Homo sapiens: one gene and its partner. The protein of the gene in region 1 interacts with the protein of each later gene in a pairwise test. Each region holds a gene or a part of one and is shown on either strand. Other genes may lie near its edges. The genes, in order: HAUS2 and XRCC4.

The links.
Region 2: the proteins of HAUS2 (region 1) and XRCC4 interact in binary tests that used the Homo sapiens proteins (3 or more experiments, as listed by UniProt).

The regions. Positions count from the first base shown.
Region 1 is NC_000015.10:42,552,955-42,569,004, reverse strand, and holds part of HAUS2 (HAUS augmin-like complex subunit 2), read right to left. Parts: intron 10,808-16,050; coding exon 10,715-10,807; intron 9,667-10,714; coding exon 9,597-9,666; intron 8,224-9,596; coding exon of another isoform or gene 8,135-8,223; intron 7,736-8,134; coding exon 7,603-7,735; exon of another isoform or gene 7,315-7,602; intron 5,257-7,314; coding exon 5,148-5,256; intron 2,399-5,147; coding exon 2,189-2,398; 3' UTR 1-2,188.
Region 2 is NC_000005.10:83,103,107-83,119,156, forward strand, and holds part of XRCC4 (DNA repair protein XRCC4), read left to right. Parts: intron 1-1,803; 5' UTR 1,804-1,813; coding exon 1,814-1,952; intron 1,953-7,921; coding exon 7,922-8,097; intron 8,098-16,050.

The DNA of each region.
Region 1 (16,050 bases):
GCTTTGTATGCCAGGGTCTCCAAGACTACCTCCAGGTTCCATGATTTGCTAGGAGAATTCACAAGACTCAGCATATCATCACACAGCTATGATTTATTACAGCAAAAGCATATGAAGCAAAACAGCAAAGAGAAAAGGTACAGAGGCAAAGTCTGGGGGAAACCAGGTATAAGCTTCCAGAGTCCTCTAACAGTGGAGTCACACATATCTGTTGTTTCATTCCACCAGCAACTGAATTGTGACAACATGTGAGAAATGTTGTTTACCAGGGAAACTTGTTAGAGATACAGTGCCCAGGGTTTTTACTGGGGGCTGGTCACGTAGGTACCTTCTACCTACCATGTACCAAAATTCTAGACTCCCAGGAAGAAAGCAGGTTTTCAGCACAAACCACAGGTTAGCTACCATGAACGACTCTTTTCAGTGAGTGGAGCCCTCCTGTTAAGGTTTAAATATGTCCCCCAAAGTTCAAGTGTTGGAAATTTAATTGACATTGTAAAAGTGTTATGAGACCTTTAAAAAGTAATTAGGTAAGGAGGGCTTTGCCCTCATTAATGAATTAGTGCTGCTATCTTGGGAGTGGGCTCATGATAAAAGGCTAAGTTTAGACCCATATATCTTTCTCATGCTCACTTGCCATGTGGTGCCTTCTGCCATGGCAAGACCCTCACTAGATGCTGGCACCATGTTCTTGGACTGCCTAGCCTCCACACCTGTCAACCAAATAAACTTCTGTTCATTATAAAATACTTAGTTTGTGTAATTCTGTTATGACAGCAGAACAGACTAAGATACCTTCTGATATCTAAGTTCCCAGATGCAACAGCTGAGGACAAACCTTATAATCAGGCCTTTCAAAGGATAAGTCAGGCTGGCTGTGTTACTCTTTTCTGCATACTTAGTGACATTCCCACAGGAATAATCATCATAGACATTTTCAGATTCAAGAAGACCCTTCTAATTCAGAAACACCTTTTTTTTTTTTTTTTAAGACAGAGTCTTGCTCTGTTGCCCAGGCTAGAGTGCGGTGGCACGATCTGGGCTCACTGCAACCTCTGCCTCCTGGGTTCAAGTGATTCTCCTGCCTCAGCCTCCTGAGTAGCTGGGATTACAGGCACATGCTACCATGCCTGGCTAATTTTTGTATTTTTTATTTTTTTGGAGATGGAGTCTTGCTCCATCACCCAGGTTGGAGTGCAGAGGCACGATCTTGGCTTACTGCAACCTCTGCCTCCTGGGTTCAAGCGATTATTCTGCCTCAGCCTCCCAAGTAGCTGGGATTACAGGCGTCCACCACCATGCCCGGTTAATTTTTTATATTTCTACCAGAGATGGGGTTTCACCATGTTGTCAAGGCTGGTCTCAAACTCCTGACCTCAGGTGATCCACCCATCTGGGTCGGCCTCCCAAAGTGTTGGGATTACAGGTGTGAGCCACTGCGCCCGGCCTAATTTTTGTATTTTTAGTAGAGACAGGTGTTTCGCCATGTTGGCCAGGCTGGTCTCGAACTCCTGACCTCATGATCTGCCCACCTAGGCCTCCCAAAGTGCTGGGATTACAGGCGTGAGCCACCGTGCCTGGCCAGAAACACACTTCTTTTTTTTGAGACAGGGTCTTACTGTGTCGCCCAGGCTGTAGCGCAGTGGCGTGATCATGACTCATTGCAACCATGACCTCACAGGCTTAGGTGATCCTCTTACCTCAGCCTCCCGAATAGCTGGGACTACAGGCATGCACCACCATGGTCGGCTAATTTTTTGTTTATTTTGTAGATATGGGATTTCACCATGTTACCCAGGCTGGTCTTGAACTCCTGGGTTTAAGTGATCTGCCCGCCTCAGCCTCCCCAAGTGTTAGGATTACAGGTGTGAGCCACCACACCAGACGATAAACACACATTTTTAAAAAAAGAGAATTTCCCACCTGAGAAATGGTTAATTCACTTATATTAATAAATTGTCATGGCTATTTTTTAGCTTCTCTAGTTTTACTGAAAGGTAGAATAAAAATATATGAAAAACAAAGGAAAAGTCAGTTTGGTCTTAATGAACCTGAGATCTTGATACTCCAATATAAAGCAGGTTCTTTCAGTATTACCAGCAGCAAAGACTATTAATACCCATGTTACAGTCAACTAGAAATAGACTTCATATGACTACACATAATTAAGCAAAAATAAAGTTGATGACTACTTGGCATTAATAGTTTGGACATGAACTTTAGAAGTAAAAGGTAAAGGAGGCATTATAATATCATGTTTATAAAGATAACTTTCTTCAGCTAATATTTTGGGGATACAAGACGAAACTTCGTTTTGTTGTTTACGCCACTTGAGTATATTCTCTGCCAGTTCTTCTGTCTCAGTCACCAATATATCCATCTTTGCTAAAGCCTGGTTCTGTAACATTTGAAAAGGGAAACAGGAGAAATTATGTCTCTTATTAATTCATTATATCATCAGTAACTGATACCAAAGGTTAACACATGATCTTTTTCCAGCCCCTTACTTCAAAAGCTCCTTAAAACTGTGCTTTCCCACTTCTTACAGTACAAACCTACTCTTTGTGAGTTCAACTCTTTTGTCTTCAATAATCACTCAATGCAGATGACCCTCAATTTATATTGCTAAACCTAACTTCCTTCCTAAAATTCAGGCCCACATTTAAGACTACTGGTAATCTCTATCTGGATGTACCTTCAATATCTCAAACTCAGTCTAACTACAGTTCAAAAATGATTGACCATTTACTACATGTGCAAGATGTGTCAAAAAATAAACTTACTAACCTCTTTTTTTTTTTTTTGAGATGGTGTCTCACTCTGTTGCCAGACTGGAGTGCAGTGGCGCAATCTCAGCTCACTGCAACCTCCGTCTCCTGGGTTCAAGCGATTCTTCTGCCTCATCCTCCCAGGTAGGTGGGACTACAGGCACGTGCCACCACGCCCAGCTAATTTTTTGTATTTTTAGTAGAGACGGGGTTTCACCATGTTAGCCAGGATGGTCGTGATCTCCTCACCTCGTGATCCACCCACCTCAGCCTCCCAAAGTGCTGGGATTACAGGTGTGAGCCATTGCGCCCAGCCCACTTACTAACTTCTTTAACCCACACTTGATACTACTCACCTTCAAGTCACCCAGACTAGAAACTTCATTATTTTTGATGTGTCCCTTGTCCAATTCATAGCCAAGTTCTAAAAATGTGACCTCCAAAATCTAAAAAAATTATCTTCTGTATTCCTATGCTTTAAATCTTTTATCTGAATGACGGTAATTAGTCTCCAGGTTTTTCTGCCTTTGGTTTCTCTGCCTAGTCTTCTAATCCAGAGCTGATCAAACTTTAATGTGCACAGGAATCACCTGAGGAACTTGTTAAAACGTAGATTCTGATTCTGAAGTTCTAGGGTGCATGATGTCTGTAGTTTTGTATTTATAACAAGCTTCCAAGTGATGTTGATACTCTCTGCCCATACTCAAGAGTAGCAAGGCTCAGTCTGCTCTATCCAATATTTTCTCCATGATTAAGGCAGTTCTAATCAAGTCACTCCTCTGCACCCTTCACTAAAAAAAGAAAACACACACACACACACACACACACACACACACACACACACACACATTCAATGGCTCCCCAATACTCAGACAGTAAAGTCTAAGGTTATTAGTCTGGTTTTTAAGGCACTGCATAAACTAACCCTGAGCTAATCTCCTCAATACCTTTACGCATCAGCCAAAGTGGAGTATCACTTTTCCCCCATACTCTCTGGGTTCTTTGACTTTTATGTCTTTCCTCACATTGCTCCTTTTGGCCAAACTATTCTTTCTGATGCATGTCCGAATTTCACTTATTCCTTAAGATTCAGCTTACTTTGGCAAGTGCGGTGGCTCAGGCCTTTAATCCCAACACTTTGGGAGGCTGAGGCAGGTGGATCACCTGAGGTCAGGAGTTGGAGACCAGCCTGGCCAACATGGCAAAACCCCGTCTCTACTAAAAATACAAACTATTAGCCAGGTGTGGTGGTGGGCACCTGTAATCCCAGCTACTTGGGAGGCTGAGGCAGGAGAATCGCTTGAACCCAAGAGGCGGAGGTTGCACTGAGCCGAGATTGTGCCATTGCACTCCAGCCTGGGCAACAAGAGTGAAACTCCATATCAGAAAATAAATAAATAAATAAAGATTCAGCTTACTGCTAACACCTAAATAAATCTTTATTGCAAAGCTGGACATGGTGGCTCATGCCTGTGATCTCAGCACTTTAAGAGGCCGAGGCGGGTGCCTCACTTGAGCTTAGGAGTTCGAAACCAGCCTAGGTAACATAGTGAGAACTCGTCTCTATTTAAAAAACAAAACAAAAACTTTATTGAAGTCTTCCTATCCCTATCCTACTCAGAATCCTCCTAAACTGGAAGTAATTCCTCCCTTTTCTATGCTCAATAGATGGCATCTCTTTGTAATTCTTTGCTGCATTTATTATGCAAATATAATCCTATAAGTAGAAAATGTATATTTTACAGCTGTCTCACCAAACGTTGAGAATTTGAAGGCAGGGATTGGTCATATCTATCTTTCACAATACATGTAGCATAGCCACGGCACAATGAAGCCAACACATGTTTATTAAATGTTGGAATAAAATAATTTAAAATGGCTTCTAAATAAAAATTATATAAAAAAGAAAATGTTAAATCCAAGGTCTAAATAAATAAACACTTCTTCTTCTTTTTTTTTTTTTTTTTTAATGGGAGATGGAGTCTTGCTGTCGCCCAGGATGGAGTGCACTGGCACGATCTCAGCTCACTGCAACTTCTGCCTCCCAGGTTCAAGCAGTTCTCCTGCCTCAGCCTCCCGGGTAGCTGGAATTACAGGCACGCACCACCATGCCCAGCTAATTTTTGTATTTTCAGTAGAGATGGAGTTTCACCATGTTGGCCAGGCTGGTCTCCAACTCCTGACCTCAAGTGATCCACCCGTTGTGGCCTCCCAAAGTGCAGGGATTACAGGTGTGAACTACCATGCCAGGCCAAGAAAATACTTCTTGATTTAAAAATTAACTAGCTCGTAATATTAGCTATTAAAAAGCTAAACTGGGAGAGCACACCTCTAAGTTTCTAGTAAAAAATAACTGAAGATTGCTATATTAATACTCACCATTTTCTTTAGATTTGCAGCTAAATGAGGAATATTTCTAATTGTTTCAAGGTGGGTTTCTAATCTCTCAATGAAAGTCACAGCCAACTCCAGCAAATGTACCATATATCTGAAAGAGAAAGAAAAAAGTCAACCATTTTTTAAAGTTTAATTGTTTTACGTTCCTTTTCTTCTCCTTTAATCAGGACTTTTAATTTGAGATAAGAATTACAATCAACCTAGAGAGCCAATAACAACCTTCCTGCATTCATAGAAATATTAGTGATTAAAAAAAGGTCCTTCTCTTTCACTTTAAGCAACTTGTCATCCAAATAAAAAAATGGAAAGAGACAACAGTAATCCTATCTGGAATCCAACTTAATGTTAGAGAAACCTCAATGTTAATCATTTTCTCCCTAGATAAAAAAACCCCATTCCATTTTCTTTTCTTTTTTTTTTTTTTTTTTTGAGATGGAGTCTTGCTATGTCACCAGGCTGGAGCACAGTGGTGCAATCTCGGCTCACTGAAACCTCTGCCTCCTGGGTTCAAGCAATTCTCTTGCCTCAGCCTCCCAAGTAGCTGGGATTACAGGCGCCCACCACCACGCCTGGCTAATTTTTGTATTTTTAGCAGAAGGGGTTCATTATGTTGGCCAGGATGGTCTCGATCTCCTGACCTTGTGATCCACCAGCCTTGGCCTCCCAAAGTGCTGGGATTACAGGCATGAGCCACCTTGCCCAGCCCCATTTCTTTTTTTTTTTTTTTGAGACAGAGTCTGACTCTGTTGCCCAGGCTGGAGTGCAGTGGCACAATCTCGGCTCACTGTAATCTCTGCCTCCTGGGTTCAAGTGATTCTTGTGCCTCAGCCTCCTGAGTAGCTGAGATCACAGGCGTGCACCACTATATTCAGTTAATTTTTGTATTTTTAGTAGACACAGGGTTTTGTCATGTTGGCCAAGCTGGTCTCAAACTCCCAGCTGGCCTCAAGTGATCAACCCATCTTGGCCTCCCAAATTACCGGGATTACAGGCGTGAGCCATGACGCCTGGCCTCATTCCATTTCAACTTACTCATTCTCTGTGAAGAATGAAGACAATAAGGATAAATGTACTTAACTGAAATAGCCTACATAGAAAGCTACTTTGAATCTCTGCACTTGCAAAAATGCTTTCAAATCATTGCCTAGTTCTTAGATGTAGTACAATATATACATTAAGGGTAATGATAATGTACTAAACAGATACTGAATATAGCCACAAGAAAGGGGTTTTGTTTTCTGTTTTGAGACAGAGTCTCACCCTGTTGCCCAGGCTGGAGTGCAGTGGCACAATCTCAGGTCATTGCAACCTCTGCCTCCTGGGTTCAAGTGATTTTCCTGCCTCAGCCTCACCAGTAGCTGGTATTACAGGCATGTGCCACCATGCCCAGCATATTTCGTATGTTTTGGTAGAGATGGGGTTTCACCATGTTGGCCAGGCTGGTCTTGAACTCCTGGCCTCAAGTGATCAGCCACCTCGGCCTCCCAAAGTGTTGGGATTACAGGCATGAGCCACTGTGCCCAGCCTTGTTTTGTTTTTTTGGAAGAATAAGTTTTTGTATATCTATTATTTTCCTACAAAATAAAAAATCTGACACTTAAGATACTGATTTGCTTAAGCTAGTGAGGCACTGGCGGAGAAAGTTAGCAATGAGATCCCCAGATGCTTGCTTCGTATTTATTTGAGACAGGGTCTCACTCTGTCACCCAGGCTAGTGCAATCACAGCTCACTGCAGACTTGACCTCCTGGGCTCAGGTCACCCTCCCAGCTCAGGAATACAGGTGTGTTCCATCATGTGTTGCTAATTTTTATATTTTTTTTTTTTGTAGAAACAGGGTTTTGCCATGTTGTCCAGGCTAGTATTTATCATTAGTCATAATCTACATCTTCAATTTGATACTTGTAATACTCTGTGAGGAAGAGGGCAATAGAACTCATCTCTATTCTATTTATTGGGAAACTAAGGCAAAAATGTAAATCATTTGCTCAAGGCTTTGAGGCATATAAACAGTAGAGATGAGAACAGAATCCAGGTTTTTTCCTCCCTTAGTTGATAGTGTTTTCATCTGCCCCAGTTAAACCCCGCCAATAGAATTTTTACATATAGGCAACATTAACTCAACAATGAATGTACTTTACAACAATGAATTTACTTCACATACAAACAGTTTTTATTGTTACATGTTATGGATCTAATTTCTTTCATTAAACTCATAATTTATAATTCCCAAAACACGATGGCCAAGTTCTTCCTTTTTGCCATAGGTATAATGGTTTAAAAGCAAAGATTTTCTTTCTGATTTAATATATCACCATTAATAATGTTAACAAATACAATCACTAATTGTTTTATGAATTCTGCTACAAAGTAACTGCAAAACAAAAAGTAAACTCAGAAAACAGGTGTAACTGTTAATTTCTACTTTTCAGTCTAACCTGTGATAAACAGCTTCAATAGGTAAGTTTTCCTGGCACATGGGTTTCAACAGTCTTTGCCTAAGGGATCTCTTCTCTTTCAGCACTGCTTCCAAATGATTATTCATGCTTTGCAGAGTATGACACTTCTGAGCTATACAAATTAAAAAACAGTAATTATAGTTAGCAATAGGACAAATAACAGAATAATTTCTTCTTTGCCTTGGTTTGACACTACCCATGTCAAAAATTCATCCTATCATTACCCTCCTGTCTCCTTTTTGCTGTCTTTAATACCAATACCAATTTCATTTTCAACAACTTTCTCTTAGTCGGTTTTTGTATATCTAATATATTTCTATTATCTCTTTTCCTAGTGATAACCAAATCTAGTGCTAAATTCTTTCTCTGTGTTTCTCATCTCTACTTCTTATTCAGTTCTTATAGCCAGAGCTATATTCTTAACACAAAGTCTTTTTTCCTATCCCTGACTCTAATAGTCTATAAAAGACCATCGAAAAAGAGTCACCTTAGCTGGTGCTCTAGCTCATACCTGTAATCGCAGTGTTTTGGGAGACTGAAACGGGAGAATTGAGGCCATGAGTTCGAGACCAGCCTGGGCAACATAGCAAGACTTCATCTCTACAAAAAAATTGAAAAAACAAAAATTAGCTGGGCATGGTGGCACATGCCAGTAGTCCTAGCTACTTGAGAGAATCAGTTGAAACCACGTGTTGAAGTTACAGCGACCTGTACTTCAGCCTGGGTTACAGAGTGACACACTCTTAAAAAAAAAAAAAAAAGTCATCCTACAAGCTATTTCTGATTATCTCATTATTTTCCCCATTCAGTTAATGGCTGCCAATTGACCTTTCTTTAAAATTCTTCTTTGGAAAAATTCAGATTTGCAGAAAAGTTTCAAAAAAAGCTTGGTGAACTCACACATACATTTTACTTATTCACCGATTATTAACATTTGGCTACATTTTCTTTTTATCTTCTTTCTCTCTCTTCTCTCTCTCTCTCTCTCTCTCTCTAATTTTTGCTGATCCACTTTAGAGTAAGCTGCAGACAGCATGATATTTTTTACCTGTAAAACGTTAGCATGTATTTCCCAAGAAGAGGAACATTCTCCTATATAACTACAGCACATTATCAAATTCAAAAAATAACATTAATACAATACTACCAATATTTAATACAGTCCATATTTAAACATCACTAAGTATCCCAATAATGTCCTTTACAGCAAAAAGAATTTTAATTTTTGAGACAGGGTCTCACTCTGTCACCCAGGCTGGAGTGGAGTGCTACGATCACAACTCATTGCAGCCTCGACCTCCCAGGCTCAAACAATCCTTCTGCCTCAGCCTTTCATGTAACTGGCACTACAGGTACATGCTACAATGCTGGCTAGTTTTTGTATTTTTTTTGTAGAGATAGGGTTTCACCATGTTGGCTGGTCTTGAACTCCCGGGCTCAAGCAATCCACCCACCTTGGCCTCCCAAAGTGCTGGGTTTACAGGCGTGACTCTCCACGCCTGGCCACAAGAACATTTTCTCATCAAATATTCAAAACATTGCCAGCCATGGTGGTATGTACCTGTGATCCCAGCTACTTGGGAGGGTGATTTGGGAGGACTGCTTGAGCCATTCAGGACTACCCTAGGCAACATAGGAAGACCCCATCTCATTAAAATAAAAAATCGATCCATGATCATACAGTGCTTTAGTTGTCATGTCCCTTTAGTCTCTTTTAATCTGAAAAGTTCCTCAGACTTTGTCTTTCAAGTTCTCCTGACTTTGAAGAGCCAATTTGGTGACTTTTTATGCTATTTGTACTACTCAAGCCAACAGAACTTCTATTTCAGCATAGAAATACAAGATTTCATTAGCTTTGGGACAACACCTGGAAAAATGATGGTGTATCATAATTTGACTGACTGGTGCTTATTTACAGTAATCCAAGAAAAAGTTGAAATTCCAGTGATTATCCACTTAACCAAACCACTTACCCAAAAAGAAAGGATGAACAACATCTGCTGTATCTTTTTCTAGTTTCAGGAGTTCAATTTCCAGGTTTTTCTACATGAGGAACAAAAGTAACATTTAGCTCAATCAGAAAGTGTCCATGGCCAGGTGCGGTGGCTCACTCCTGTAATCCCAGCACTTTGGGAGGCTGAGGCAGGTGGATCACCAGAGGTCAGGATGTAGTGAGCCGAGATTGTGCCACTGCACTCCAGTATGGGTGACAGAGTGAGACTCTGTCTCAAAAAAAAAAAAAAAAGAGTCCAGGGGATTTACTGAAGTTTTTCATTTTGCTGTTCTTGCCCTGCTGCTGCTACTCTTACTACTATTACTGTAACTACTATTAGTAAGTAAACATGTAGCTAGCTAGTTATGTGCTAGACACTGTTCTAAGTTCAAAGGAATTGCTGTTTGAACCAATAAAGTTTTTTTGTTTTTGAGACAGGGTCTCCGTCTGTCACCCAGGCTGGAGTGCAATGGCCCAAACATGGCTCACTGCAGCCCCGATTTCCTAGGCTCAAGTGATCCTCCCAGCTCAGCCTCCCAAGTAGCTGGGACTACAGGTGTGTGCCACCATGTCTGGTTACTTTTAAAATTTTTTGTAGAGACGGGATCTCCCTGTGTTGCCCACACTGGTCTCAAACTCCTGGGCTCAAGCAGTCCTCCCACCTTGGCCTCCCAAAGTGCGAGGATTATAGGTGTGAGCCACTACATCTGGCCAACTTTTGTTTTTGTTTTCCTATACTAGGAGTAGAAAGTGAAAAGTTCAGGCCGGGCGCAGTGGCTCACACCTGTAATCCCAGCACTTTGGGAGGCCGAGGCGGGCAGATCATGGGGTCAGGAGATCGAGACCATCCTGGCTAACATGGTGAAACCCCATCTCTACTAAAAGTACAAAAAATTAGCCGGGCATGGTGGCGGGCGCCTGTAGTCCCACCTACTCATGAGGCTGAGGCAGAAGAACGGCGTGAACCTGGGAGGCGGAGTTTGCAGTGAGCCGAGATTGTGCCACTGCACTCCAGCCTCCAGCCTGCGTGACAGAGCAAGACTCCGTCTCAAAAAAAAAAAAAAAAAAAAAAAAGAAAGTGAAAACAAAATGATTTACCTGGTAGATTTCAGCTTGAATATTTGTGATCTGCTGTAGTCTGGTGAAGTTCACAAAACAAGAAACTGTTTTCTTAGACATGTTTAACATCTCCTATTGGTAAATGAATAAGGAAAGTAGCAGAATGTCACAAAAAGTTTCTAGGTACATTGGAATAGCATGCCCATAGTCTAAAATATGAGAAAATATTATGTTCAACACTGCCTTTGAACATGAAGTACAAAGTAAAATAGTAGCAATGTGTAATTCCTGTTTTAGAACCTTCACCATCACAAATCACTTGCTCAAATATTTAAAAAAAAAATAAGAGAAACAAACAACACACTCCCTTTGTATTATTTCCTAAGGTACCATACAAAATAGATTTGTATTACTGATAGTTTATCAAAGGATTCAAAGGCTAAATTTGTTGGAGAATCACCTCTACCTTTCCAAATGACTCAGGCCCAGTCTCTCAGAGCTTCCGGGGTTGAAATCAAATATTTTCGCCTTCATGGAATTATTTATCTGATTCGTTAAATGACCTCAGTTGCCTACAAGTCATTCATACTGTGTATGTTCACATTCTCATCTTTTAGTTAAAGGATTATTTGTATCCAGGCATAATTATTCTTTTAAAAAGGTTACCCCTTCTTTTTCATCCTTTCATTCCATGAGTCCATGCACATTATCTCAGAATTGAGTATTATCTTGTGCATTCCTAGACTTCATCCATAATTTTCTCTATCATCTTGCTTTCTAGAATGCTAGCACAGCAAAGAACTTCATATATATATAATATATACATTATATACAATGTATATATTATATATAATATACATTATATACAATGTATATATTATATATAATATACATTATATACAATGTATACATTATATAATGTATATATAAAATATATATTATATATAAAATATATAATATATATAAAATATATATTATATATAAAATATATATTATATATAATATATATATTTTTAAATGGAGTCTCACTCTGTCGCACAGGTTGGAGTGCAGTGGTGCAATCTCGGCTCACTGCAAGCTCTGCCTCCTGGGTTCATGCCATTCTCCTGCCTCAGCCTCCCGAGTAGCTGGGACTACAGGCGCCCACCACCATGCCCGGCTAATTTTTTTGTATTTTTTAGTAGAGACGGGGTTTCACTGTGTTAGCCAGGATGGTCTCGATCTCCTGACCTCATGATCTGCCCACCTAGGCCTCCCAAAATGCTGCGATTACAGGCGTGAGCCACCGACTGAGTTTCGCTCTTGTCACCCAGGCTGGAGCACAATGGCAACATCTCTGCTCACTGCAACCTCTGCCTCTTGCATTCAACTGATTCTCCTGCCTTAGCTTCCCAAATAGCTGGGATTACAGCTTCCCAAGTAGCTGGGAGTTTTTGGGATTACTGCCACCATGCCCAGCTAATTTTTTTTTTTTTTTTTGTATTTTTAGTACAGTTGGGGTTTCACCATGTTGGCCTGGCTGGTCTAGAACTGCTGACCTCAGGTGATCCACCCGCCTCAGCCTCCCAGAGTGCCCAGATTACAGGCGTGAGCCACCGCGTCCAGGCCAAAGAACTTTAGAGATCAGATAGGCCAGGGACTGGAAAACTATAGTCCATGAAATAAATGCAGCCCATTACCTGTTTTTGTACAGCCTGTGAACCAGGCATGGTTTTTATATTTTCAAATTGTTGGGAAAAAGAAAATCAAAGACAATATTTTATAACAGGCTGGGCACAGTGGCTCATGCCCGTAATCCCGAACTTTGGAGGCCGAGGTGGGTAGATCATTTGAGGTCAGGAGTTCAAGACCAGCCTGGACAACATGGTGAAACCCCGTCTCTACTAAAAATACAAAAATTAGCCAGGCAGGAGTGGTGCACACCTGTAATCCCAGCTACTCGGGAGGCTGAGGCAGGAGAATTGCTTGAGCTTAGGAGACAAGGTTGTGGTGAGCTGAGATTGCCACTGCACTCTAGTCTGGGCGACAGAGTGAGACCCTGTCTCAAAAAAAAAAAAAAAAAAAAAAAGCCTGGGCGCAGTGGCTCACACCTGTAATCCCAACATTTTGGGAGGCCATGGCAAGTGGATTACCTGAGGTCAGGAGTTTGAGACCAGCCTGGCCAACATGGTGAAACTCTGTCTCTATTCAAAAAAAAAAAAAAAAAATTAGCCAGGCGTGGTGGCAGGCGCCTGTAATCCCAGCTAGTCAGCTAGTTTGGGAGGCTGAGGCAGGAGAATTGCTTGAACCTGGGAGGCAGAGGTTGCAGTGAGCCGAGATCGCGCCACTGCACTCCAGCCTGGGTGACAGAGCGAAACTCCGTCTTAAAAAAGAAAAGAAAATGATCTGAAATTCAAATTTCATGGTCCAGAAATAAAGTTTTATTGGAACATGACTTCTCTCATCCATTTACACACTATCTCTGGCTGCTTTTATACAACCACCTAGTTGTGTAGCTGCAACCATATGGCCCACAAAGCCTTACATATTTACTCTCTGGCTCTTCATAGTAAAAGTTTACTGTCCAAAAATAATCAATTTTATGAACACTTACTGAGTTAGTCAACGAAATATTCAAATATGAGTGAAACAAGCTCTCTACCCTCATGAGGCTCATAATGGATGGGAAGAAAAAGGTATTCTAGATAGAAAGATCAAAAACATTACAAATGCTCAATAACCACCAGTGTTAGCATATATGTGAAAAGAGGGGTAAGATGTAGCTGAAAACATAGTCTCCAACATAATCATAGATGATCCTGAGTGCTATGCTCAACAATCATACTGCAGAAAATGGGAGCAACTGAACATTTTCTGGTGAAGAAGTAATATAATCATACATAATACTTATTTAGAAATACAGGCTGGCATGATGGCTCACACCTGTAATCCCAGCACTCTGGAAGGCTAAAGCAGGAGAACTGCTTGAGCCCAGGAGTTTGAGACCAGCCTGCACAACACAGGGAGACCCTGTCTCTACAAAAAATTAAAAAAATTAGCCAGGCAGCCGGGCGCCGTGGCTCACGGCTGTAATCCCAGCACTTTGGGAGGCCGAGGTGGGCAGATCACGAGGTCAGGAGATCGAGACCATCCTGGCCAACATGGTGAAACCCCATCTCTACTAATAATACAAAAATTAGCTGGGTGTGGTGGCGTGCCTGTAGTCCCAGCTACTCGGGAGGCTGTGACAGGAGAATCGCTTGAACCCAGGAGGCGAAGGTTGCAGTGAGCAGAGATCACGCCATTGCACTCCAGCCTGATGACAGAGAGAGACTCTGTCTCAAAAAAAAAAAAAATTAGCCAGGCATGGTGACATGTGCCTATAGTCCCAGCTACTTGGGAGGCTGGGGTGGGAAGATCCCTTGAGCCTGGGAGATTGAGGCTGTAGTGAGCTGTGATCATGCTACTGCAACTCCAGCCTGGGCAACAGAGTGAGACCCTGTCTCAGCGGCGGCGGGGAAGGTGGGGATATTTAACTGGGGCAGTATGAAAAATAAAACTGGCTGGGCGTGGTGGCTCACACCTGTAATCCCAGCACTTTGGGAGGCCGAGGGGGTAGATCACCTGAGATCAGAAGTTGGAGACCAGCCTGGCCAACATGGTGAAACCCTGTCTCTACTAAAAATACAAAAATCAGCCAGGCATGATGACATATGCCTGTAATCCCAGCTACTAGGGAGGCTGAGATGGGAGAATCACTTGAGCCCAGGAGGCTGAGGCTGCAGTAAGCTGTGAGCGCACTACTGCACTCCAGCCTGAACAACACAGAGAGACTCTCTCTTAAAAAAAAAAAAATACACCTACAAAACAAACAAAATAAAAACACTAATGAAGAGGGAGGAGGGAATAGGGAATAGTACAGAGTTTACATCTGGAGTGATAAAGATGTTTTTGAAAATAGTTGCACAATATTGAGTATAGTAAATGCCACTGAAGTGTACATTTTAAGACAGTTAAAATAGTAAATTTTATGTTATATGTATTTTACCACAATAAAAAAAAAAGAAGGAAAACCCTGGTAACTAGCTAACATAAAGAAAAAACACTAGTGGAGAAATAGACTGGAGAGGTTGGATATTTAAACAGGTGGCTGCTACAGTATTCCAGGTAAGGATGAGAATGTGGACTAGGTCAGTAACAGTTAAAAAGGAAAGGAAGAAAAGATGGGAGTTCCTGCAAAGATGGAATTGACAAATCTTAGTTGATATGGTAAGGGATAAAATCCAGTTAATACTCTAAGGATTTTGCTTCAGGTGAGTGGACAGAGTTATGCCATTCACTGAAGTAGATAACACAAGATATTTTACTGATGGCAAAATTGAGGAACAGGAAAGTATTACTCCAACTTCACACTGCCAGTGTGTGCCAAGATGGAAGTGAGAACACATCTAATCCACTGCCCTTCCATCATATCAGCTGACCCTTTTTTCTTTGTTTCTCTCAGGAGGTAAATGAAAGTAAAATATTTTCTACAATTTATCACATTGTAACCAACCTGTTCACTGGTATATCTCCCTCTCTCCATGCTTACACACTAATCTTAGTTGTACATCTGGCAAACTAGTAAACTGTCGGGTTCAACAATAGAGTAATGGTGCTTAGCTAAGAACATGCAAGAGAAACCAGAGGAAAAATAAGAATGTTTAAGAAGCAGATAACAAAAAAGGAGAGAAGAAAGAAAGAGGGTCAGGTGCAGTGGCTCTCACCTGTAATCCCTGCACTTAGGGAGGTGGAGGCTTATTTTCCATAATAAATAGGAAGTACAACTATTTGAGGATTGAGACTTAGTTTAACACATTTAAAAAAAAAAAGAAAAAAGTATCAGGGATTGGGGAATACAGAAAAGTCTTTTCCTTTAGCTATTGTTACTATATATTGCTATTACATGCCCCAAAGGGCAAAAGAACCCTGAAAATGAAAGGATCCTGAGAAAAAGGAGTCTATTCAGGGTATTTCTGTTTATTCCGTGGCTAGGCACAAGAAGAAGCTCAAATCCAGAACCTTTATACTTAATATAAAAATCCTGGCCTGTAATCCCAGCACTTTGGGAGGCCGAGGCAGGTGGATCATGAGGTCAGGAGTTCGAGAACTGCCTGACCAACATGGTGAAACCCCGTCTCTACTAAAAATACAAAAATTAGCCGGGCGTGGTGGTATGTGCCTGTAATCTCAGCTACTTGGGAGGCTGAGGCAGGAGCATTGCTTGAACCCGGGAGGCGGAGGTTGTGGTGAGCTGAGATCGTGCCATTGCACTCCACCCTGGGCAGTAAGAGCGAAACTCCATCTCAAAAAAAAAAAAAAAAAATCCTGGTAACATTATATACCATATATGTATG
Region 2 (16,050 bases), on another chromosome or scaffold:
GTGCCACCATGAAAAAAGCTGTTTATAAGGTTTATTTAAACATGCGTGTCTGTGGATAAAGACAGAGGGAAATGTTCAGATAATCATTGTTTTGGGAAGGGCAAGATTAGGTTTTTAGAATTTTTATATTATGTGGTTGTCTGTTTGTTCAAGTAATGAAGTTCTTGTGCAGTTGCAAAGTACTTAACAAATGGATGATGGTGATCTTAGATCTGACTCCCTTCTAACTCTAACTTTCAGTATTACATTGTGTACCCCTAATTTTATTTTCTTCTTTATTGTATGAAGTAAAAAATTGGCTAACATGAAAACCATGGAAAATGTTTGCAAGAATGTGCAGTAATCAGAATTCTCATACTATCAATTGTAAACTGGTACAACGCTTTTAGAAAAATATTTGCTGTGTAGCACCAAAATTGAATATATCCATATCCTCTGATCCAACAATTTTACTCTTAGGTATATACTCAACAGAAATGCATATGTATTTGCTAGAGTGTTTCTGCCAGCAGTATTTGTAATAGTCAAAATCTAGAAAGTACCCAGATGCCTACCACTAGTGGAATGGATAAATAACCTGTCTTATACTCATATAATAGACTACTATACTGCCCTGAAAATCATCTATCACTTTAACACATAGTGTGGATGAATCTTTCAAACATAATGTTGAGCAAAAGAAGCCAGACACAAAATAGAACATGCTGTATGATTATATTTACATAAAGTAGAGAAATATTCAAAGCCCTCATCTCTGTTAGAAGATAAGATAGTGGTTATTTGGAGAGGCCAGTGGCTAGATTGGAGGGAGTGTGAGAATGAATTTTGGGTAGCAATGTTCTGCTTCTTGATCTAGGTACTACTTACATGGATTTGTTCAACTGTAAAATTCATTGAGTTGTACTTTTGTACTTTTGATGTATGTACTTTTCTGTCTATATATAATACTTAAATACAAAACTTAAAGAATGCAGAAACATTTATTGGCCTCAGGCTGTGATAATCTGATGCAACTTATCTCTATTACAGAGTGCCCCTGTCTCAGTGGATAGGGTGTTTCAGTCACTGAGCCTGGTCATCTCTGCCTTAGACAAGGCATGACTGGATACTATCAGCTGTTGGGTTGTGAGATTTTTTTTCCCCCATTGAATTATACTTACTCAACTTTTTCATTCCAGACAGTGTCTCCAGACAGAGACTAAGATACTTGGTCAATTTTATCCTTTCTAATTACTGTAATATTTCAGTAGTGAGATCAGTTCCAGGTCATTCTCACAAGTTCTTGCAACCATTTCTTTTGTGGTAGAAAAAAAGCCTATTGAATCTGGGGGAAAAGAAGTGGTAAAATTTACTCAGCATATTGTTGAGATGATAATTTTTTGTTTTTTTTTAGTAGAGACGGGGTTTCACCATGTTGGCCAGACTGGTCTTGAACTCCTGACCTCAGGCAATCTGCCCGTCTTGGCCTCCCAAAGTGCTGGGATTACCGGTGTGAGACACCGCGCCCAGCTGAGATGATAATTTTTATCTTCATTACTTGGACAAATCATTTTCCATTTATGGGCCTCTGCTTTTCTCATCTGTAAAAATTGTGAATTAATATTGAAGAAAACTGTGAATTTACTGAATGTATTATTTACTGAATTTAATGGTTGAATCTAATGGTTGAACCTATTATACAGTTTTTTTGTTTTGCTTATTTTCTTATTTCCTTGGTGTTTGTGTAGCTGAGAGGCCAGTACAGAAAACATTATTTGAGTTACAGTTTCTTTTAAAAATATTAATTGTATTCTCCCATTACAGGTATTAAGAAATGGAGAGAAAAATAAGCAGAATCCACCTTGTTTCTGAACCCAGTATAACTCATTTTCTACAAGTATCTTGGGAGAAAACACTGGAATCTGGTTTTGTTATTACACTTACTGATGGTCATTCAGCATGGACTGGGACAGGTAATACTAAAAACAAAGTTTTTATAAGTAAAATTTAAGTGTGCTATTCTTCAGTCCTCAGGGATACTTTTCCATTAGATATTGGGTAAAACTGATATTAATTTTACTTGCTATTGCTGTCAAATTTATACACAGGTTTGTAATATTTAATGCCACTTTCTATATTTAATAGTAATAGAAAAACAAACGTGTCCTAGAAAATTCCGGTTACCATTTGAATCTTAGTAACTTGGATTTGTTCAGAGGTTTAAAATGACCTCTTTATAGAAAATATAAATAGTACTTTCTAAATACATCTTTTCTCAGGACCCCAGGGAAGAAGTCTGGGGCAGAGGAAGGAGATTGGTTAGGTAAATGGGTATGTGTGTTGCCTTGGGGCAATGGGGTAGTGGTGGGTTATTTATTTATTTATTTTCCCCAGTGAACATATATTACATTTGTAACAAAACAGGACCAGAGTCTAAAAATTTGTAATGCAAGGTTCACACCCACATTTAGGATCTTGGCTGTGATTTTAGGAAATAGATTTTTTTAACTCTTTGGTAATAATATTTTAAAAATGCTAATGACCCTCAAATCATGTATGGAACATGGTGGATATAAAGTAAAAATATGTAGCCTTATATTTTCCTTATATACGAAGTTTTAATACTCTTCTAAAGTATCTTATTGAAAGATTTAAAGAACTATTTTTATAATTATGCAAAAGTCTTTTCTAGAGTTATGTTGTGAATAATGTTTTCTGTAAGATAATTTTTACATGTTAATTTACATACTATTTATATCTTCTATTAACTTTAGAAATATTTCTCTAGAATTTGTTACCATGATTATTATATCGTCTTTAAAATTACAATACATTGTAAAATTTTGTTTCTTTCTTGAGCGTTATGAATTATGTTATACAACACAGTCAAATTGAATTTATACTTACAGAGTTTCAAAAAAATTGTCTTTTTTGACACAGAACAGGTAATGTTGATGTAGGGATTCCTGTAAAATAAAGAATTTTCAGGGGTAATATTTGCAGTACTTATTATGATATCTATTTAAGCTACACATTTATCTGTAAGAGAAAGCAGAAATCAGATTGGTTGTTGCAGTTCAAGAGTAGAAGATTTGTCAGCTTGGTTTTATGTATGCCAGAGAGATTATATCCAGAAGACAATATTTCTTGTTTTAGGGTGAAGAGTGTATAAGGCTAAAGACAAGGGCAATAGATTAATGCTGGTCATCTGGGTAAGAAGAGCAGTTCTAACAACACAGCTTGGAAGCAAGTCCTAGGGGAAGTGGTTGCTTGTATGTAAGGAATACTGTATTTATAACTTTAGGTATTTCTAATTGGCAAATGGCGTATTCTGTATACTTAGTTGTTGTCAGACAGATGACCTTAAGGTGTTTCAGGAGCCTTAATTATCAAAGGAAGAGGCTGAATTCTAATCTAGTCCATAAGCCTCATTCACCAAGATAAAAATCAGTGATAATATGTTATTTGAAATTTTTTAATCATTAAGTATTGGGGGAAAAAAGAACACTCCATTAACTCTTATCTCTTAATTTAACCAGAAATGTAAGAACCTTACATTTATGGAACATTTCGTTTATATCATACAATTGTGCTGGCATCATTCTTAATAATATTAACATGAATTATCATTTCACTAGATGGTACTGATTTATACTGAGGGTAAGAGACACATTTGGTTTGTCAACACTCTTTGCAATTATCTAGACCGGTACCTACGAAATACATTCTCAATGAATACTTTTTTGATTGAAAGAATGAAAGGATGTCTCAAATATATAAAACTGGTCTGCGAAAAAAGAAAATAAATTGTTCATTTTAGAGTTAGCATGTTTTTGAATGAAAACTCCAGTTTTATATTTACTTATTGTTGACATTTGTCATAACTGCAGTATATTCTACCATTTATTTTTTAGCTAGTGGAATTTAATGTGACAAAAATGTGATATCAAACTTATGTATTCTCAGGTGGATTGTTACCATTTTGGTTTCCTGTACCAAACAAGCTTTAAAACAGAAAATTTTATAGTGCACTATGTGGTCATTTTATTTTCAAAAATATCTAATAGTGTTTAAATCTCTCATGTGTTTTATGCCTTCATTCATTTCTGTTTTCTTGTTTACATATCAGGGACAAAATAGGAAATCAAATAATATAACACTGTGCCCATGTTTAGTTAAGGCTTATTCCATAAATGTGATCTGGTACTTTACATGTAGACAATAACATCACTAAGGACATTGAAACAATTAAATAATTGAAACATGGAAACGGATTTCCTTCCGATACCTCATCCTGTTTTTTTTTGTTCAACATTTTGATTACTGCAACCTTCAATTTGGACAATTTTTTTTCTCTTTTTATTTGAGTGAAATTAAAAGGATGTAAGTTTTCTTTTAATCTCCCCTACACTAAACTCACTGATTTCCATTAGCAATGTTTTATCTAATGAATGTTTTTGAGGTCCAATTATCTAATTATCATGTGGTCTATCATCACATCAGTATTACAGGCGGTTATATCACAGGGGTAAGTCACAAAGTGGGTTAATGATCGATGACTCTGACTTTCATAAGAATTCCTATTGGCAGTAGGAAACTTATATCACCCATCTCTGGAGTAGTTTGAAGTTTATTAAAGAGTAAATTAAACTTTACTAATTGTTCTATTATCCACTAATTAGATCCACTTATAATTATCTTGAGTGTAAATATTTTTTGACTTATATGGAAATAGTGACAGAACTCAGTGGAAAGAGGATTTTAATAAATCAAGCAGTGAAATGGGTTTATGATGCAATACCAACTAGAATCCTAATGGTATGATAAGACTGTATGTCTTCTGAGCTCCAGTACAAGCTTAGGATGTGTGCAGGCTTTTGGCTAGTTATATATAGGTATCTGAAGGAAAAAAATCTTCTTTCCTCACTTACATCTTCATCTACCTATAAACACTGCAAAAGTGATGCTTTTCAGTGTTAAAGTGAGTCTCAGTCTGACTTCTACCAGTTCCTTGTTTTTTGGTCATGTTGGGCTGCTCATGTTTTATGCCTTATTATGTGGTTCAGTTGCATTCTTGCTGAATTTTATTATTTCCATTGCCTTTATTCTTGGTCACTGAAGTTTTAGAGCATCGCGTGCTTACAGCTATACTTTTTCCAGATGTTCTTGGCACAGAATTCAAAACTGGTGACCAGGTTGGTTTTTTAGGATTGAAGCCCTATGTAGGCAGTCAGATTTCCATGTTTACTTTTATAGGAATTTTTCAAGTACATTTTTGAACAAATAGCTGTTTTACATAATTAATTTCCTTTCATACGTTTTTTTCTCCTTCAAAAATTAAATATTCCGTAATAATCAGCACAGTATTTATTAGGAGAGGAAAATAAGAGGATATCTAGGATGATAACTGACAGATATCTAAAATGTTGTCTAAGATATTAGCACTTGAATTTGAGCTCCACAGGCTAGCATTTTTGGAATGAATGAATGATTACATATTTTCAGACAGGTATCTTTTCATTTTAATGAAATTTAGAATACTTTTAACTAGATGCTTTTTAAATAGATGTTCTCTGTTTTCTTTTGTGTTTTCTTCAAGTTTTTCTATGGCCGCATTAAAGATGGCATCTACAAATTTATTTCCTATTTCTCTGTGAAATAACTGTTCTTCCTAGGTATTGGTGAGTTAAAGTTAGATAGTTACTTTTTAACATAATGCAAACACAAAATATGAAATTATTCCTTAAATAGGAAGCATTTATCTTCTTCTTTTTTTTTTTTTAGAAGAGCTACTAGGGCATTTGAAAGATCAATAGGTTTGATAGTGATGATCATATTAAATGTGTCCACTTCCAATAGAGAAAATGTGAAAGTGTTTTAGAAGCTGTTAATATATGAATATAAGCTATTTTTATTCTTACCTCCTTCCAAAGGTTGTGTGACGTATGAGAATCATATTTTATTATCAAAACTTGTTATCAAAAATTGATCATATAAAAATATTGGTACCTTGCAAGACTCCCTTTTTCATTAACTGTCATGGGTCTTCCAGACACTTGATAGCATAGAGACCAAAGGTATGAAAATGTGTGTTCCATTTTAGGGATTCTTTAATCATGATTTCCTTATATTCTGTAATATTTTATACTAATGTTGTTTTTCAAAATTATGGATGGAAATAATTTATCCAATGTTTCATGTCTCTGCTTCACCTCAAAATAAAACATGCAGAGAGATATGAGTATTAATCCCAGCTTCACTAGTTACTTACTTCATCACCCTAGACCATTACTTGATCTCTGTGAGCCTCAGTTTTCTCTTTTGCAAAATGAAAATAATATCTGTTTTTCAGTTTTATAAGGAATTAAAATAGATAAGTGTAATGCATAAGTATGAAATTATACAACCATATGAGACTTTTATCATTACTGTGATAGCCTAAATTAACACAGGAAACCATCCAACCACACACACATTCCAACAAATAACGAGATTGAATCTTGTAATTTTAAAAACAAACAAGTATGCAGACCCATTGCCACTTTTGAGTGTAAGAAAGGGAAAACCTCAGACACCATGTTTGAAGAGGTATTTCAAAACCAAAGTAATTGATGAGAATTAAAGCTTACTTGTAGATTCATGGAATATCTGAACTAGATATACTTCTAGATGACAGTGAGTATAATGTTTGAGTGAGGTAGAATGTTGAGGCTTCAGACCTCTTAGGGAATTGGAGTTGAGCTCTCAGCATAAAGAAAGGAACCTGGAAAATATATGCTGTTAATAAAATAATCTTTTAAAAAAACTACTACTCTCTGTCCAGAGGATGCAGCATAAAAACAGAACAATCCCTAAGGACTATGAGTGAATAAAAGTCTCAAGAAAAATCAGAACCCTAAACCTGTGTTATGTGTGGATGGGAGGTTTAAAATGGAACACTTTGCCTCAAATGTAAAAATCGAGGTGAGAAATTAACTTTCAAAACTAGTCCCAAACTGATAAAACTTGTAATGACCCCCAGAAAGGCAACCTTCATTTAAGACCACTTCTTCCCAGAGCACTTGCCACTTTGGCTAGAGGTGAGCTGTACTCAAATGTTACAAAGCATGAAAGGAAAACAAGTAAAACAAGAATTTTTCCACAGATAGAAGAAACATAATTTATACCCCAGGAGCCACACATAAATACAGAAATGAAAGAGATCTTAAAATACGTTTATTTAAATATTTAAAAGAAGGGTAGGATAAGAACAGGATATAATGACAAAGGAACAAAGATAATATCTAGAATTGAAAATATAATTATTGAAACAAAAATCTCAATGATAGTAAAACATCAGCTTTAAAAATACCTAGATAAGAGAATTGGAAGCGGTCTCTAGTATAGTATGTGTTGCAGAGGAGATGCTCGTACATTTTAGTTTCCTTCCTATTATTTCCTTATCATCTCCTTTCATCCATATTTTCTGTTGTTGGCACATGATATGAGAATAGTGAGCTCCACTTTTGCTTTTGTTTTACTCTGCCCATATGAGTGAGAAACACAGTATAGGCTATTGAATCTTTGATGCAAGGAAGAAAGATGTTATAAAATACTGAACTTATTATTCATTGTAGGAAATTATCTGGCTTTGACCTAAGAGCAGTTACACAAAGTGGGAGTTTCTGTAATAATTTACAATGCGTTTCATCTGAAGACAGAGAAAGAATGTCAAGGGTTTAATGTATTTTACGAGATGTGAGTCTAAATTAATGCATTTCTCAAAAATTGCTAGTTCAGTAAAAAGGAATAATTTGATTTAAAAATGTGTAGTATAGGGATTGATTTTACTTGTTTGAATTTCTGTTACATGTGATAAATTAGTACTAACAGATAAACTAATATTTTCTCATGTGTAGTCATTTACTTTTCATTTTAAAACTTTTGTTAATATTTCCCATAGTTTCTGAATCAGAGATTTCCCAAGAAGCTGATGACATGGCAATGGAAAAAGGGAAATATGTTGGTGAACTGAGAAAAGCATTGTTGTCAGGAGCAGGACCAGCTGATGTATACACGTTTAATTTTTCTAAAGAGTCTTGTTATTTCTTCTTTGAGAAAAACCTGAAAGATGTCTCAGTAAGTAAAACTTTCCAAAATGTTACATAGTAAAATGTCAGAGCATTTATTGAGGAATTATATTTAAATTTAAGTGACTACTATATTATTCCCAGAACACCTCAGAAGCAAAAGCTTGAAAAGTACTTGGTTTCCAAATTAGAAGAATACTTCAAAGCTAAAGTCATTAAATATATTAATGAATCATGAAAAATAAATATTGGAAAATGTGTTTAGTTTTTAATGCTTGAAAAATTTTAAAGTATTACAGAGTTAATTATACAAAAGAATAATCTTGAAAAAGGTGAGATCAGAAGTTTTAGGCCATCGTGACAGGTCTTATTGAAAAAAGTTTTGTGAAATATTGATTTTAAGAAATAAAATCAATCAAAATATATCTTTGAATATAGAATAATTATGACTTATTTTCTACTTTACTAGAGTATATTTGAAATTGAAAAATGCATAGTAAGTATTAAGGATACTTTATATTGTCAGATTTAAAAATATTAAAATAGAAATAACTTGAAGCCTAAGCTTTGCAAACAAGAGTATCTGCTACTTATTCTGCTCAGTTCCTGCACCAATTCAGATCAAGGCAGGTGGTTTATTTATTAAAGTCTGGCACTAATTATTTGTATATTTTACCTAAGTTTAATAGATACTGAATTTGTTTTTTTAACCAGTGGTTTTCAGTCATATATGAGATCTATCATTTCTGAAGGAGAGGGAAGGAAATGTTTGCTACATTAAGTTAACAGAAATGTATTGAGAATTTGTTTTAGTGCTCAACTGAGTTTAGGAAATTCTTTTAAATCAACCTTTTAAATTTGGAATAATTAAAGAGATTTCATTAATTAGATAAACATTTGTAGAAACAAATGGAGTCATTATAAATTTATATTATCGTGTAGGGAATAATGCAGAGAAACTACCCTTAGTAATTTATATTTAAAATAAACATACTTTTTCTAATTAGCTGCCAATTTATATAAGTTTCAATATGCTGAATTTCTTAAAATGGTAATTTAAAATAGGTTCAGTAAGAAGGTTGGAACTAGCTACTACAATTTTGTTATTTATTGTAAGTGTTCTTTCCTGTGGCCCAAGCTCAATCGGATGATATTATATGTTACAGAAGTGCAGACTCTTCTAATGTTTTGAAGCAGATCATTGCCAAATTGGGATTAATGCCATTTCCCATTCACTAAACATTTGCATGTAACAACTAGCATTATTTTGTGCAGCGATTTTCTAGTTTTTATCTGTTTCACACATATTGATACATAATAAATTCCAAATTAGTGAGGTACATTTTAGAAGGCTGAAAGGCTTTTGAAATTTTTGACATGCTAAAAGACGGGGCTTGGTACAGTTGGCATGTATATTAATCTGTTCTCACACTGCTAATAAAGACATACCCAAGGCTGGGTAATTTATAAAGGAAAAAGATTTAATTGACTCACAGTTCCATATGGCTGGGGAGGCCTCACAATCATGGTGGAAAGCAAAAGAGGAGCAAAGTCACATCTTACATGGTGGCAGGCAAAAGAACATGTGCAGGGGAACTCCCCTTTATAAAATCATTAGATCTCATGAGACTTATTCACTATCATGAGAACAACACAGGAAAGACCCCTCATTCAGGATTCAGTTACCTCCCGCTGGGTCCCTCTCATAACACTTGGGAATTATGAGAACTACAATTGAAGATGAGATTTGGGTGGAGACACAGCCAAACCATATCATTCCGCCCAGCCCCTCCCAAATCTCATGTCCTCACATTTCAAAACCAATCATTCCTTCCCAAGAGTCCCCCAGAGTCTTAACTCATTTCAGCATTAACTCACAAGTCCACAGTCCAAAGTCTCATCTGAGACAAGGCAAGTTCCTTCTACCTATGAGCTTGTAAAATCATAAACAAGTTAGTTACTTCCCAGATACAATGAGGGTACAGGCATTGGGTAAACATACCCATTTCAAATGGGAGAAATTGGCCAAAACAAAGAGGCTACAGGCGCCATGCAAGTTCGAAATCCAATAGGGCAGTCATGAAACCTTAAAGTTCCAAAATGATCTCCTTTGACTCCATATCTCACATCCAGGTGATGCTAATGCAAGAGGCGGACTCCCACAACCTTGAGCAGCTCCACCCCTGTGGCTTTGCAGGGTACAGCTCCCTTCCTGGCTGCTTTCATGGGCTGGCATTGAGTGTCTGTGGCTTTCCCAGGGGCACAGTGCAAGCTGTCGGTGGATCTACCATTCTGGGGTCTGCAGGAAAGTGGCCCTAATCTTATAGCTTCACTAGGCAGTGCCCCAGTGGGGACTCTGTATAGGGGCTCCAACCCCACATTTCCCTTCTATACTGCCCTAGCAGAGGTTCTTCATGAGGGCCCTGCCCCTGCAGCAAACTTCTGCCTGGACATCCAAACATTTCTTTCTTTTTTTTTTTTTTTGAGACGGAGTCTCGCTGTGTCACCCAGGTTGGAGTGCAATGGCGTGATCTCCATCTCCACTCACTGCAAGCTCCGCCTCCTGGGTTCATGCCATTCTCCTGCCTCAGCCTCCCAGGTAGCTGGGACTATAGGCGTCCGCCACCATGCCCAGCTAATTTTTTGTATTTTTAGTAGAGACGGGGTTTCACCATGTTAGCCAAGATGGTCTCAATCTCCTGACCTCGTGATCCGCCCGCCTCAGCCCCCCAAAGTGCTGGGATTACAGGCGTGAGCCACCGCACCCAGCGCAGACATTTCTATACATCATCTGAAATCTAGGCAGAGGTTCCCAAACCTCAATTCTTGGCTTCTGTGCACTCGCAGGCTCAACACCATATGGAAGCTGCCAAGACTTGGGACTTGTACCCTCTGAAGCAAGGCCCGATCTGTACCTTTGCCTGTTTTAGCGACTGCTGGAGTGACTGGGATGCAGGGAACCAAGTCCCTAGGCTGCACGCTGCAATGGGGGCCTGGACCTGGCCCAGGAAACTGTTTTTACCGCCTAGGCCTCTGGAGCCTATAATGGGAGGGGCTCCTGTGAACATCTCTGACATGCCTCGGAGACATTTCCCCCATTGTCTTGGTGATTAACATTTGGCTCCTTATTACTTATGCAAATTTATGCAGCAGGCTTGAATTTTTCCCCCAAATATGGGCTTTTCTTTTTTATTGCATCGTCAGGCTGCAAATTTTCCAAACTTTTATGGTCTGCTTCCTGTTGAATGCTTTGCTGCTTAGAAATTTCTTCTGCTAGATACCCTAAGTCATTTCTCTCAAGTTGAAAGTTCCACAGATCTCTGGGGAAGGGGCAAAATGCCCCCAGTCTCTTTGCATAGCAAGAGTGACCTTTAGTTCCCAACAAGTTCCTCATGTCCATCTGAGACCACCTAAGCCTGGACTTCGTTGTCTGTATTAGCATTTTGTTCCAAGCCATTCAACAATTCTCTAGGAAATTCCAAACTTTTTCACATCTTCCTGTCTTCTGAGCCCTCAAGTCTCTAGGAAGTTCCAAACTTTCCCACATTTTCCTGTCTTCTTTTGAGCCCTCCAAACTGTTCCAGTCTCTGCCTGTTACCCAGTTCCGAAGTTTCTTTCACATTTTCGGGTACCTTTATAGCAGCACTCCAGTCTACCGGTACCAATTTACTGTATTAGTCTGTTCTTACACTGCTAATAAAGACATACCCGAGGCTGGGTAGTTTATAAAGGAAAGAGGTTTAAATGATTCACAGTTCCACATGGCTGGGGAGGCCTCATAATCATGGCAGAAAGAGAAGGAGGAACAAAGTTACGTCTTACATGGTGGCAGGCAAGAGAGCATGTGCAGGGGAGCTCCCCTTTATAAAACCTTTAGATCTCATGAGACTTATTCACTTTCATGAGAACAGCACAGGAAAGACCCACCCCCATGATTCGATTACCTCCCACCATGTTTGTCTTACAACATGTGGGAATTATGGGATCTACAATTCAAGATGAGATTTAGGCCGGGTGCCTCCCAGCACTTTGGGAGGCTGAGATGGGCGGATCACCTGAGGTTGGGAGTTCCAGACCAGGCTGACCAACATGGAGAAACCCCGTCTCTACTAAGAATACAAAATTAGCTGTGCATGGTGGCGCATACCTGTAATTCCAGCTACTTGGGAGGCTGAGGCAGGAGAATGGCTTGAACCCGGAAGGCAGAGGTTGCGGTAAGCCAAGATCACACCATTGCACTTCAGCCTGGGCAACAAGTGTGAAACTCTGTCTCAAAAAACAAACAAACAAACAAACAAAAAAACAAGATGAGATTTGGGTGGGGACACAGCCAAACCATATCAGCCTGGATGGAGTACTTGCCATGACTGGCAGTACATCAGGTTTTACCCTTTCTATGAAGAAAGAGCTTTAAGTCCTCTTGATTCATGTCTTCTACAGTTGGTTTGGCATATATCAACATCAAAGACTCATAATAATCCTGAAAGATTTTTGCTTACCACCCTGAAAGTAAACAACTTTATCAGAGCCAGCATCTTGAACTACAGGTACTACCTTTTCAACAAATGTTCACAAGTAATGGAAGCAGCCTGAAAGATTACCAGCAATGCAAAAAGTGTGCTGGTTCCCCAGAGAATGTCTTAAAGCACTACATTGCAGTCTAAATATCTGTCTCCTTATTTATTCATTTATTTATTTGTTTATGAGAAAGAAAAGAATATTCTCAGAACGGCTTGACAAGGAGGAGTTTATTCATGGCTTGGCTTGAGAGATATTTTGGATATTTAGATGAGGTAAAACTTTCAGTGGATGGATGCAGCTGAGAGATCACAAGTTCATTTGGCCAAGGTGTCATGGGAGTCTTCCAGTATTCAGGATGTGCTTCTGCAGACTGATTTCAGAGTGACAATGTCTTGTAGATTCATCTGCTGGCAAAAAAAATCTGCAGACAATGGGAAACATGGCAGACAGAATACTTTTTTAAAGCTAATTTTGCTTGGATGACCTAAAAATTGAGAAGGAGTTTGTAATCCTTTTCTTGATGATACAAACATCTGATTGTTGCCAAAAATGACCTCCTAAACTTAGAAGAAAGGAAAAGAATGAACATAAATTCAACTAAAAAAGTTGTGAATTCTGTTGTTTCTTAATGTAAGGTTGCTCCTCCGTGACAAAGACTTGCTCCCAGATGCATACCTCTGGGAGTCAGGGTTTTAGGCATTTATTGCCATCAGTTCAAGAAATTTTGTGTATCTAATTGTGTGTTCACTGTGCAATTTGAACATTTTGAATATCTAACTTATATAAGAATTGTTTGAAATTTACATTTATAACAAACTTTCTTTTTTTCTTAAAAGGAAGTAACCACTATTTTAGTATTCAAAAATACCTGATATTTTGAAAATCCTGTCTTATGTTTTGTCTGAGTGAAAGAATTACCAGTTTCTCTCTCTCTTTTTTTTTTTTTTTTTTTTTTTTTTTTTTTGAGATGGAGCCTCACTCTGTCACCCAGGCTGGAGTGCAATGGTGCAATCTCAGCTCACTGCAACCTCTGCCTCCCAGGTTCAAGTGATTCTCCTGCCTCAGTCTCCTGAGTAGCTGGGATTACAGGTGCATGTCACCATGCCCAGCTGATTTTTGTATTTTTAGTAGAGACGGGGTTGTGCCATATGGGCCAGGCTGGTCTCGAACTCCTGACCTCAAGTGATCTGCCTGCCTCGGCCTCCCAAAGTGCTGGGATTATAGGCATGAGTCACTGTGCCCAGCCAGAATTACCAATTTCTAATGTAGTGAAATATTTAAAATTTTTAGCTTGTTTGTCAATATTTATACTCATGTTTTGGGAGCAGTGGGTCAGCAATTTTCATGAGATTGCTTTTGAGCTTATCCTCCCAAAACTTCCCTTAGGCTTTAATTGGCTTTTCTTTATAGATAACATAGATCCTTTTATTTTAACTTCATTCTCATTTGAATAAATGTTGGGCGAACAGCTACACACTAATTTCTTTTCTCCATAGAGTGCGAACCCATGTGACCCTTCCTGCCTTAGTGCTCTTCATTTAACAGTAGATTGTTCTGGTTGAAAGCATACTATAGTGCCAGCATTTGGAACTCCTCATCTCTTCAGCACAAGGACTGTCACTCACACAAGAGATCATTTGTGTGCTTTGGGCCACTGTTTTCCCTCTACCTTTAACAATTTATCCTGATTTTGCCATACAGACTTTGTCATGCTAACAATGCATCTTAATGAATAATGTATTCATCTTCCTTTTTTGCTTTCATATCTCACTCTGTTTCTTTAGAAAAATATTCATTTATGAGTCAAAGAAAAACAATTATTTTTGATAAGAATAACCTTGGGCTAGTCATTTAACCCTAATTTCCTCATGATTCTGTTTTTTCATCTGTGCAATTTTTAAGTGATTTCTTAGATTAATTCCAGCTTAGCTAACATATTGTAGAGCTACATATATATGTGTGTGTGTGTGTGTGTGTGTGTGTGTGTGTGTGTGTGTGTATGTATGTATATGTATGTATATATAAACATTTTGGCTATAAGGATATGTCTTTTTAAAAAAATTAATTTAATTTTATTTTAAGTTCTGGGATACATGTGCAGGATGTGTAGGTTTGTTACATAGGTAGACGTGTGCCATGGTGGTTTGCTGCACTTATGAAGCCATCACTTAGGTAGTAAGCCCAGCATGCATTAACTATTTTTCCTGGTGCTCTCCCCTTGCCTGGACCCCCTGACCAGCCCCAGTATGCATTGTGCCCCTCCCTGTGTTCATGTATTTTTGTTGTTCCCCAGTGAAGGAAGCTATGAGGTTTGAAGAAAAATTAAACATGATTTAATACATATATATATGTGTATGTATATACATCTCCACACACACACACACACACACACACACACACACATATGTATATAGTGAATATCTAAAACTCTAGAATTTGCTACAAGTCTCTAGTAGAATTAATGCAAAGTCTACTTCTATTTCTTTACCCTCATTTCCCCTACTACTTAAATAGCATAGAGGTTTATTTTTCAGTGATATAAAAATCCAAATAGGCAAACCTGGGTTAATATAATGGCTTTATGATATTGGAGACACAGGCTTCTTTGATCATGTTCCCTTGGCTTTTTTTTTTTTCTTTAATTGAGACAGGGTCACACTTTTTTGCCTAGTCTGGAGTACAGTGATGTGATCATAGCTCACTGTAACCTCTGACACTTAGGCTCACAAGAACCTCCTACCTCAGTCTCCCAAAGCACTGGATTACAGGCATGAGTCAGTGTGCCCAACAGTCTACTTTGTAATTTTTAACAGGTAGTTTTTATTTCATAGTCCAAGATGACTTGTCTAGTTTTACTATTATGTTCACCTTTGAGGCAGCAGGACCCAGTTAAAGAGACAGGAAATAATATGTGCTTTTTCTTTAAGACAGTCACTCCCAAATTTGATACATTCCTTTTGCTCACGTCCCATTGGCCAGAATGTAGTCACATGGCTTCACCTAGCTGCAAGGGAATCTGTGAAATGTGATCTTCAGCTGTGTCTTGTGCACAGAAGTTTTCATTACTGTGTAAAAACTGGAAGATGGATATCAATGGTCAACTAGCAATCTATGCATTTAACATGCAGGGAAGATTGAAATATCATTCAGAAGGCTTTGCTGTTTTTGTTGCAAGGATGTTTGTTTAGCATTTCATTACAAATAAGGGTTTCAGTCATATTTCAATTTAAGAAATGTTACAACATAAAGTAAGTATACTTTAAAGGATAAAGTAAGTATCCTACTCTGTATCTTACTATATTTTAGAAGTTTTATTTATTTTTTAGTGGAAAATCCATTCTAAGTTTCAGACAGCCTTCCCACCATTATTTAATTGACGTTTCTCAAATATATGAAAATGAGGTAAAACCAGTTTGCCAAAATAAACATCCAGAGTTCTTTTTAAAAACAGCAGTCCAAAATCCTATATTATTGCCATGTG